Regions from separate parts of the Homo sapiens genome. Here region 2 is linked to region 1. The links come from fine-mapping of genetic effects on gene expression. Tissue or cell type: whole blood. Region 1 holds a variant in brackets; the other region holds the start of a gene. All regions are shown on one strand. Distances are from middle to middle.

Region 1 (5,344 bases):
GCTAATTGTTTTCTATTTTTTGTAGAAATTGGATCTTGCTATGTTGCCCAGGCTTATCTCGAACTCCTGGCCTCAAGGGAGACTCCCACTCTGGTCTCCCAAAATGCTGAGATTAGGCTGGGCGTGGAGGCTCACACCTGTAATCCCAGCACTTTGGGAGGCTGAGATGGGTAGATTGCTTGAGGTCAGGGGTTTGAGACCAGCCTGGCCAACATGGTGAACCCCCGTCTCTGCTAAAAAAATATAAAAATTAGCCAGGTGTGGTGGCGGGCGCCTGTAATCCCAGTTACTCAGAAGGCTGAGGCAGGAGATTTGCTTGAGCCTGGGAGGCAGATGTTGTAGTGAGCCAAGATCATGCCACTGCACTCCAGCCTGGGCGACAGAGCAAGACTCCATCTCAAAATAAATAAAAAAATAAATAAATAAATAAATAAATAAAAATAATAATTAAGTTTAAAAAAAACTTTTAAGTCTGAAATTTAACATAAACATGATAAATATTTCTCCATCTTAAAAGAGATTTACACAAAAATCCTACCACTAACATCATACTTCATGGTCAAAGACAGAATGCTTTCCTACTAATATCACAAGGTGATGTCTGCTATCACCAATGCTGTGTGACATTTATATTCTAGTCAGAGCAACAAGAAGAAGAAATAAGAGGCACTTAGATTGCAAAGAAAGGGGTAAATTGTCTTGATTCTCACACAACATGATCTCCTACATAGAAAGCCCAGAAATAAACAAAGAGTCAAAAGACTTTCAACAAAGATAACAAGGATATCTTGAGGGAAAGGACGGTCTTTTCTGCAAATTGTCCTGGAATCATTGGATATCCACGTGCAAAAAGATGAATTTATACCTTTACCTTGTATAATATACAAAAATGACCTCAAAATGAACCATAGATCTAAATGTGAGAGTTGAAGCTATAAGACTTGTGGAAGAAAACACAGAAGTCATATCTTCATGCCTTTGGGTTTACGCAATGGTTTCTTGAATATGAAGTCAAAAGCTTAAGTGAGGGCCAGGCGCAGTGGCTCACGCCTATAATCCCAGCACTCTGGGAGGCTGAGGCAGGTGGATCACCTGAGGTCTGGAGTTTGAGACCAGCCTGACCAATATGGTGAAACCCCGTATCCACTAAAAATACTAAAGTTATCCGGGCATGGTGGCGGGCACCTGTAGTCCCAGCTACTCGGGAGGCTGAGACAGGAGAATTGCTTGAACCCGGGAGGCAGAGGTTGCAGTGAGCTGAGATCATGCCACCGCACTCCAGCCTGGGTGACACAGCGAGACTCTGTCTCAAAAAAAAAAGCACAAGTTAACAAAAGAATAAACTTATTTTTATCAAAATTTAAAACGTTTGTGCCTCAAAGGATACTACCAAGTAAGGGAAGAAGACAAGTTATACAATAAGGATAATGTAGATTTATTAGAATTGGAGAAAATATTCCCAAATCCTGTACTCCAGCCTGGATAACAGAGTGACACCATTGCAAAAAGAAAAAAAAAATTTTTTTTTAACAAATCATCAATTAGAGACTTATATCAAGACTATATAAAAAACAAGACTCAATAATAAAAAGACAAACAAACCCAATTTTTAAATGGGAAAAGGACCTAAATAGATATTTCTCCAAAAAATATGTATGGATGACCAATAAGCACAATTGAAGATAACACAAGCCTGTAATCCCAGCACTTTGGGAGGCTGACACAGGCGGATCACTTGAGCTCAGGAGTTCCAGACCAGCCTGGCCAACACGGCAAGAGCTTGTCTCTACCAAAAAAAGGTTCAGAAATGAGCTGGGTATGGTGGCACACGCCTGTAGTCCTAGCTACTGAGAAGCTGAGGCAGCAGGATTGCTTGAGCCTGGGAGGTTGAGGCTGCACTAAGCTGAGATGGCGCCACTACACTCCAGCCTGGGCGACAGGGTGAGACCCTGTCTCAAAAAAAAAAAAAAGAAAGAAAGAAAGAAAAGTAAAAACACATCAACAATCACTAGAGAAATTTTTAAAAATCAAAAAAAATTAGATACCACTTCACATCTATTACAATGGCTAAAATCAAGAAGTAAGTTGGCAGCAATGTGGGGGTAACCCTCCTATCCTGCTGTGAGAATATAACATGGTATAGCCACCTTGGAAAACAGCTTGTCAGTTTCTTCAAAGTTCAGTGTAGCAGGGCGCGATGGCTCACGCCTGTAATCTCAGCACTTTGAGAGGCCTCCCTTGATCATGAGGTCAAGAGATTGAGACCATCCTGGCCAACATGGTGAAACCTCGTCTCTACTAAAAATACAAAAATTAGCCGGGTGTGGTGGCGCGTGCCTGTAATCCCAGCTACTCAGGAGGCTGAGGCAGGTGAATCTCTTGAATCCACGAGGCGGAGGTTGCAGTGAGCCAAGATCATGCCACTGCACTCCAACTTGGTGACAGAACGAGACTCCGTCTCAATTAAAAAAAAAAAAAA[AG/G]TTCAGTGTAAATTTACCCTATTCCTAGTAATTGCACTCCTACGTAAATATCCAAGAGATATCAAGGAATATGTCCAGACAAAACCTTGCTCAAGTATGTTCACTGTAACATTATTCCCAATACCCAAAGGTGGAAACAACCAAAATATCTATAAACTGATGACTGGATCAACAGACAGTATGTTCATGTCACAGAATAGTTAGTGCTCAGCAATAAAAAGAAGCTACGGCTACACCTACCAAGCTCGATGAGCCTCGAGTGAGTGATGCTCAGTGAAAAAAGCTCATTTCAATAGGATACATACTACATATTCCATTTCTACAACATTCATGAAATAACAGAGACAGGGACGATGAAAGCATCCCAAAATTAAGACTGTGATGATGGGTAAAAACCCCTTAAAAACATTTTAAGATTGTAAATCTACTATTAGTGAATTATATACTTAAGACAGGTGAATTTGGCTGGGCACAGTGGCTCACGCCTGTAATCCCAGCACTTTGGGAGGCCGGGGCGGGTGGATCATTTGAGGTCAGGAGTTCGAGATCATCCTAACATGGTGAAACCCCATCTCTACTAAAAATACAAAAAATTAGCCGGGCGTGGCAGCATGTGCCTGTAATCCCAGCTACTCGGGAGGCTGAGGCAGAATCACTTGAACCTGGGAAGCAGAGGCTGCAGTGAGCCAAGATCGCGCCACTGCACTCCAGCCTTGGCGACAGAGCAAGACTCCGTCTCAAAAAATAATAATAAAAAAAAAAGGCAGGTGAATTTTATGGTGTATCAATTATACCTCAATAAAGCTGCTAAAAAATTAATCTTTTCACCACAATGAGAATAAGACAAAGGTTAACAGAAAACACAATGTGTATGTTTATGTATATATAATTTTTTCCTTTCATAGTTACATGTTTAAAAGTATTCCAATGATACTGGTTATTTACTTCCGAAAGTCTCAAATAAACCTGGCTCTAAAGGGTATTACTCTTTATCCTGTTTTCCCTTCAAATGAAATGGCTAGACTTCCCTAAAGGAAGCTGAAATCCGCATCATTCTTCAAACGCCCTTCCTGGAAATGCTCTCTTCCTCATGAACTCTTTCCTGAACTATAAAGGAATCCAACCTCCAATAACATCCACAGCACTTTCTCAGAGCCATTCTTGCCGTAGGGATGCAATGTTCTTGCCATGTTCATTTTACAGAATTTTCTCTCTTCCGTGAGACTCACAGCTCTCAAAAGTGGTAATGCTGATACACAGCTGCGTATCCCCTCCCCACCCAATGCTGTGCCCAACAACGTCTTGCCGAGTCGATGACATTAGGTCAATTAAATCCTACTCATAATTCTGGTAAGTGAGGGCAGATGTATGATCTTCTATAGAAAACAAGCAGCGAAGCTGAAAACAAAAAAACAAGTCTCCACTTTTTTAGCTCAATGAACCTTTTGTGGATTATATAAACATCTAAACAGCCCATCCGAAAATGTCTGACATCATATTCTCAAAGACAATAAAACAGAAACCATTAAAGTGTATGAAAATCTAGCAAAACGGAGGCCAGCCAGCTATCAAGGAAGCAAAGCACTTACTTACCTACATGCTTCTTTGGCTCTAAAAAAGGTCTGCATTAAAACAAAACAAAACAAAACTTCGTATGAATACGCAAAATTATTGTAAAGCATACATTTAAATGACTTCTGTGTTAAATATGAATTTTAAAAATACATTAACGTAAGCTAAATATTCAAATTTATACGAATCAACTGTTGATGGGTACAAAGGGAGAAAGCACTTCACCTCTTAATGATGAATGAAATCCCTGCTTTGTTCTCCAAAATCCATTTCAGGGTTGCAAGATCATAGTTCTCGGGGTGTTTAAAGGCAACACCTTCCGGAAGCCCCTGCACTACCACAGCCGACTGGTCTCGCAGCATCTTCTCATATGGTACAGGTACCACTGTGGATTTGCCTAAAGCTTTCCCTGGGGCAGATGAAAAGCGGATGAACATCATTCAATGGTAAGATTACAAAATGAAATCATCGCTAGCTTATTGTGGCTTAATAAGGGCATCCATGATTTTTTATAATATATGATTTCAAAATTAATTAATACTACAGCATTCTATCTCCCCATGTCAGCAGAAGGTCTAAACCTGAAACTGATCCGAAGGGCCAAAATGAAAAGTAGATAAAATATTTTACTTTAAAAAACACATAGAGAGAGCAATGGTTGGTTTCTTGCACTATTGTCTTTCTTGAAGATGGTCCCATCCTGGCATATTCTCAGGTACAATTTGGCCTCAGAATACAGAAGCCCAGCACATCCAACTATTACCATAAAATACCAGGAATGTTTTGGCTAATATTCTCATTGAAAACTTATCAGGTAAATACAAACTTCCCATTTACAAATGAGTATATACTGTCAACCTATTGGGCAGCGAGCCTCACACATACTGAAAATCCCATTCCAGAGAATTGATTTTCACCTATGACCCTGCAGTAAAACCTCAATCTCCTCCTTTGACTGTTTTCTTGTAAGAGCTTTGTTTTATGATGTGACAAGAGTAAGAAAAGGTGGCTTTGCATGGAATTAGAGAGATGAGCATGCTTATTAGAAAGAAACAGCTAGGCCAGGCATGGTGGCTCACGCCTGTAATCCCAGCACTTTGGGAGGCCAAGGTGGGTGGATCACCTGAGATCAGGAGTTCGAGACCAGCCTGGCGAATGTGGTGAAACCCCATCTCTACTAAAATTTAACACAAAAATTAGCCGGGCATGGTGGCGGACACCTGTAATCCTAGTTACTCAGGGGGCTGAGGCAGGAGAATCACTTGAAACCGGGAGGCGGAGATTGCAGTGAG
Region 2 (5,150 bases), 72 kb before region 1:
GCACTTTGGGAGGCCAAGGCAGGTGGATCACCTGAGGTCAGGCGTTCAAGACCAGCCTGACCAATATGGTGAAACCCTGTCTCTACTAAAAACACAAAAATTACCCGGTAGTGGTGATGGGCACCTGTGATCCCAGCTACTTGGGAGGCTGGGACAGGATAATTGCTTGAACCCGGGAGGCGGAGGCTGCAGTGAGCTGAGGTTGTGCCACTGCACTCCAGCCTGGGTGACAGAGCGAGACTCCCTCTCAAAAAAATTAAAAAGAAGACAGAATTGCATCTAAGATCCACTGCCCTGGATACACAAACTGAATCTAATGAAGATAAACCCAAACTAAGGGACATTCTACAAGGTAACTGGTCTGCTCTCTGCAAAACATCAAAGTTGCAAAAGACAAAGACTGATTAAGACCGATCCAGAATCCGCTGGCACGGTGGCTCACGCCTGTAATCCCAGCACTTTGGGAGGTCGAGGCGGGCAGATCACCTGACGTCAGGAGTTCGAGATCAGCCTGGCTAACATGGTGAAACCCTGTCTCTACTAAAAATACAAAAAGTAGCCGGGCATGGTGGCGCATGCCTGTAATCCCAGCTACTCGGGAGGCTGAGGCACGAGAATTGCTTGAACCTGGGAGGCGGAGGATGCAGTGAGTGGAGATTGTGCCATTGCACTCCAGCCTGGGTGACAGAGTAAGACTCCATCTCATAAAAAAAAAAAAAAGACTGATCCAGAATCAATATGGCAAAACCCTGTCTCTACCAAAAAATGCGAGCTGGGCATGGTGGCGCGCACCTGTATTCCCAGCTACTCAGGAGGCTGAGGCAGGAGAATCTCTTGAACCCAGGAGGCAGAGGTTGCAATGAGCCGAGATTGCACCACTGCACTCCAGTCTGGCGACAGAGTGAGATTCCGTGTCCAAAAAAAGAAAAAGAAAAAGAAAAAAGACTGATCCAGATTAAAGAAGGTTAAAGGCTATGACATTGATCCTTGACTGGATCCTAGACCTGAAAAAAGTTTTCACTGCAGAGGACAAGCAGGATAATCGGGGAAACCTCAGTAAAGTCTGTGGGTGGATAATGGTGTTTTGTCCATGTTAATTTCCTGATTTTGACACGTGTGTTGTGATTATGTAAGAGAATGCCTTGATTTTAAGAAATGCCCAACAACTAGTATTTAGAGGTAAAGAAACACGTCTTCAACTCACTCTCAAATAATTCAGAAAATATCCCCAGAAAGAGAGGTGTGGATGAAGGTGAGTGAAAGACTATTGGAGTGACTGGTACCGTTTTGACACCCAGTAGCCTTTCTGTAAATTTGAAATTTCAAAACTGAAAGTTACAAAGAAAAGGAGAAAAGTGACTAGGCACGGTAGCTCACGCTTGTAATCCTAGCACTGTGGGAGGCTGAGACCAGAGGGTTGCTTAAGCCGAGGAGTTCAAGATTAGCCTGGACAACATAGTGAAACCTCATCTCCACAAAAATTTTAAAAACTAGCCAGGCATGGTGGTGTGCGCCTGTAGCCCCAGCTACTCAAGGGGCTGAGGCAGGAGGATCACTTGGGCCTGGGAGGTCGAGGCTGCAGTGAACTATGATCGCACCACTGCACTCCAGACCTCATTTCAAAAAAACAGGCCAGGCACGGTGGCTCATGCCTGTAATCCCAGCACTTTGGGAGGCCCAGGTGGGTGGATCACTTGAGGTCAGGAGTTTGAGACCAGTCTGGCCAACATGGTGAAACCCTGTCTCTACTAAAAATACAAAAATTAGCCAGGCGTGGTGGTGGGCACCTGTAATCCCAACTACTCTGGAGGCTGAGGCAGGAGAACCAGTTGAACCTGGAAGGCGGAGGTTGCAGTGAGCTGAGATCGTGCCACTGCACTCTGGCCTGGGCAACAGATCAAGACTCTGTCTCAAAAAACAAAAAAATAACAAAAAAGAGAAAGGTCTTGGCACATAGGACTAAATGTTCCATACAAGCTTCAATTTCCTAAATGTAGTTCCTCCCTGGCCTTCCTATGGGATTAGGGGACCCAGTGGACTTGTGTGTCTGAGCAGGCATTTGTCCAGCCTCCTTGGGGACAGATGGGAGGACTCTATTGGCCCCTGTCATGGTGTCACCCTACTGGAGAGGATAAGACTCTAACTGACACTACAGGCAGCTGGGGAGAGAGAGAGCTTTAGTTTCCAGGCCTCCCTCTTGGGAGGGCCACTCTCTGATAGCTGGGCTAGTCAGGGAAGGCTTCCTGGAGGAGTGGGCCTCGGACCTGAGAGAGCGCTGGGCTGCCTGGCCATGGCAGGGGAGCAGAAAGAGGACTCCTGGCTAAGGCTGAGGGCCTGGCTGGGGACACAGGCGGGGACAGTAAAGGGCTGGGGCCCAGGGCGGGTCCAAGGGAACTGTCTTCCCAGGGATCAGAGGGGTAGATCCAGGCTCAAAGACCAGGGACCAGGTGCCCAAGACCCTGCCCCGTTAGTCCTCACTGGAGCTGGTTGGCCCTGGGACTGCAAGGGTGGCCGTGCTGTCCCTCCCGTATTCCCCCCACGGGATGCCCTCCACCAGCTACTCACATAGTGCTGGCTGGGTACGAAGCGCTTCTCAAAGCCCAGCAGGGCGATGTGACGGATGAAGGTGTCCCCCATGACTGGGTGGCCTCCAGTGCTCCCTGGCACTTCCAGGCTGCGCCTTAAATGCACTGGAAAGAGGAAGTCGCTTTTGTCGCGGTCGGGACAGGGGGCAGGGAGGGTACAGAAAGGGCTTTGCTTCTTCTTTCAGTTTCTGGGGACTCTTCAGGCTTGCAGGGTGTAAACATGGGCAGACTCATGTTCACACACACCTGCAGGGACAAGGAAAAGGGTTTACACTTGTCCTTCCCGTCGCCTGCACGGGCCCCACGGGTTTTGGGGGTGAATCAAGCTGCTCCTGCCTCAGGGCCTTTGCATTTGCTGCGTCCCCTTGACCATCTTTCCCCCCTTGACCATATTCCTGGTCTTGACCATGTTCCCCCCATTCACCATCTTCCCTCCATAACTCTCCTCCATTTCTCTGCTCAAATGTCACCTCTTCCGAGAAGCCTTCCTTGATAACTTCACATTGCATAGCAAACCTCATACCTTTCTCAGCCTCTTCCTGCCTCCTTTTTCTGCAGAGCACTTATCACTGATGCATCGCAAATTGCATTTAATTTTTCTTTATTATTATTGCTATTGTTATTTGAGACAGGGTCTTGCTTTGTTATCCAGGCTTAAGTGCAGTGGTGGGATCACAGTTCACTGCAGCCTCCAACTCCTGGGCTCCAGCGATCCTCCTGCCTCAGCCTCTGGAGTAGCTGGGACTACGGGTGTGTGCCACCATGCCCGGTTAAATTTTTTTTAATTTTTTTGTACAGACAGGGTCCTGCTATGTTGCCCAGGATGGTCTCAAACTACTGGCCTCTAGTGATCCTCCTGCCTCTGCCTCCCACTTTTTTTTTTTTGAGATGGAGTCTCGCTCTTGTTTCCCAGGCTGGAGTGCAATGGCGCGATCTCGGCTCACCGCAACCTCTGCCTCCTGGGTTCAAGCAATTCTCTTGCGTTAGTCTCCTGAGTAGCTGGGATTACAGGCATGTGCCACCACACCTGGTTAATTTTTTTTTTTTTTAATTAGAGACTGGGTTTCTCCATGTTGGCCAGGCTGGTCTTGAACTCCTGACCTCAGGTAATTCACTCGCCTCGGCCTCCCAAAGTGCTGGGATTCAGGCATGAGCCACCGTGCCTGGCCTGACTTAATTTTTTTAGTCTCCCCTTACCACAATGTGTGTCCCAGGAAAGCTAGGGCATGACCGGGTTATCAGGGGCTCTAGCCCCAGCCCCTCCATCTAGTGCCTGGCACACAGAGGCCATAAATATTTGGATCGTGACTGCAACATTCACTGAGTGAATGAATGAGTGAGTGAATGAATGAATGAGTCAATGAATGAGTGAATGAATGAATGAATGAGTGAATGAACGCGGGCATGGGAGTGTGCATGCAAGCGTTAGATGCTCATCCTTGGGTGTGTGTGGATGAGGGCCAGTGACAGCTGGGACGAAAATGGCACAGACTTTGAGTGAGACTTGAGTTCCAATCCTCAAGTAAGCAAATGGTTCATTGAATTGTTCCTTAGGGCTGACTCAGTTTTCTCCAGAGTGATATTAAGACTGTCAGCTTTGCCAGGAAGGGGATTTGGGACAAAGAGGTGAGGAGGGGGCAGCATGCCCAGGGACAGGCTGAGGCCTCTCTCTCCCACTCCCCCTAGAGCCTGGGAGGCCCAGAGCTTTTGGAGCTCATTCAAGGTCATGAGTTCATGAGTGGCGGGCCTCAGCCCCAGGCAGCCTGCTGCAGCCTGTGCCTCCCAGCAGGCCAGGGCTGCACCAACTCACCCTTGCCTGAGTCCAGGGTCAGCTCATGGTCCGGACCTGATCTCCTGGGGGTGAGGGTTGAGGTCTGGCAGATGAAAGCCAAGACATGCTGGGCGTTAATTTATTTGTTTGAAGCGAAGTTTCGCTCTTGTTGCCCAAGCTGGAGTGCAGTGGCACAATCTCGGCTCACTGCAACCTCTGCCTTCCAGGTTCAAGCGATTCTCCTGCCTCAGCTTCCCAAGTAGCTGGGATTACAGGTGTGCGCCACCACGCCTGGCTAATTTTGTATTTTTAGTAGAGAAGGGGTATCACCCTGTTGGCCAGGCTGGTCTTGAACTCCTGAGCTCAGGAGATCCACCCACCTCAGCCTCCCAAAGTGTTGGGATTACAGGCATGAGCCACTGTGCTTGGCCCTTTTTTTTTTTTTTTTTTTTTTAAAGACAGGGTCTCTATCTGTCACCCAGGCTGGAGTGCAGTTGCCTGGTCATAACTCACTGCAGCCTCCAACTCCTGGGCTCAAGCAGTCCTCCTGCCTTGGCCTCCCCAGTAGGTTGGGACTACAGGCACATGCCACCGCACCTGGCCTGTTCCTGCTTTTATTATCCAGTGCATTTATTATCCAAGAGGTGTAGGGTCCACTCCACCTGCTCTGAAAGATTTGCTTGGCAAGTGCTTCACTTCTTTTTTTCTTTTTTTTTTTTTTGAGACAGAGTCTCTTTCTGTCCCCCAGGCTGGTATGCAGTGGCATGATCTCGGCTCACTGCAACCTTCACCTT

What was found. PIP is the estimated chance that this variant, and not a neighbour inherited with it, causes the effect.
Region 2: NCF1 starts here. The variant in region 1 is fine-mapped to the expression of NCF1 in whole blood (INTERVAL, PIP above 0.99).

The regions. Positions count from the first base shown.
Region 1 is chr7:74,699,364-74,704,707 of GRCh38, reverse strand. It overlaps GTF2I (general transcription factor IIi), which reads right to left. Exons shown (of 35, transcript NM_032999.4): 5 at 4,278-4,461; 6 at 4,074-4,102. GTF2I-AS1 (GTF2I antisense RNA 1) reads left to right here. Exons shown (of 4, transcript NR_110044.1): 3 at 4,328-4,498. Among named protein-coding and RNA genes, the nearest start is that of GTF2I-AS1, 27 kb to the left of the region's middle. The variant AG/G (reference allele first, on the strand shown) is at 2,480.
Region 2 is chr7:74,771,519-74,776,668 of GRCh38, reverse strand. NCF1 (neutrophil cytosolic factor 1) reads right to left here and starts at 2,658. Exons shown (of 11, transcript NM_000265.7): 1 at 2,566-2,658. The coding sequence starts at 2,637. RefSeq lists an enhancer at 3,832-4,377.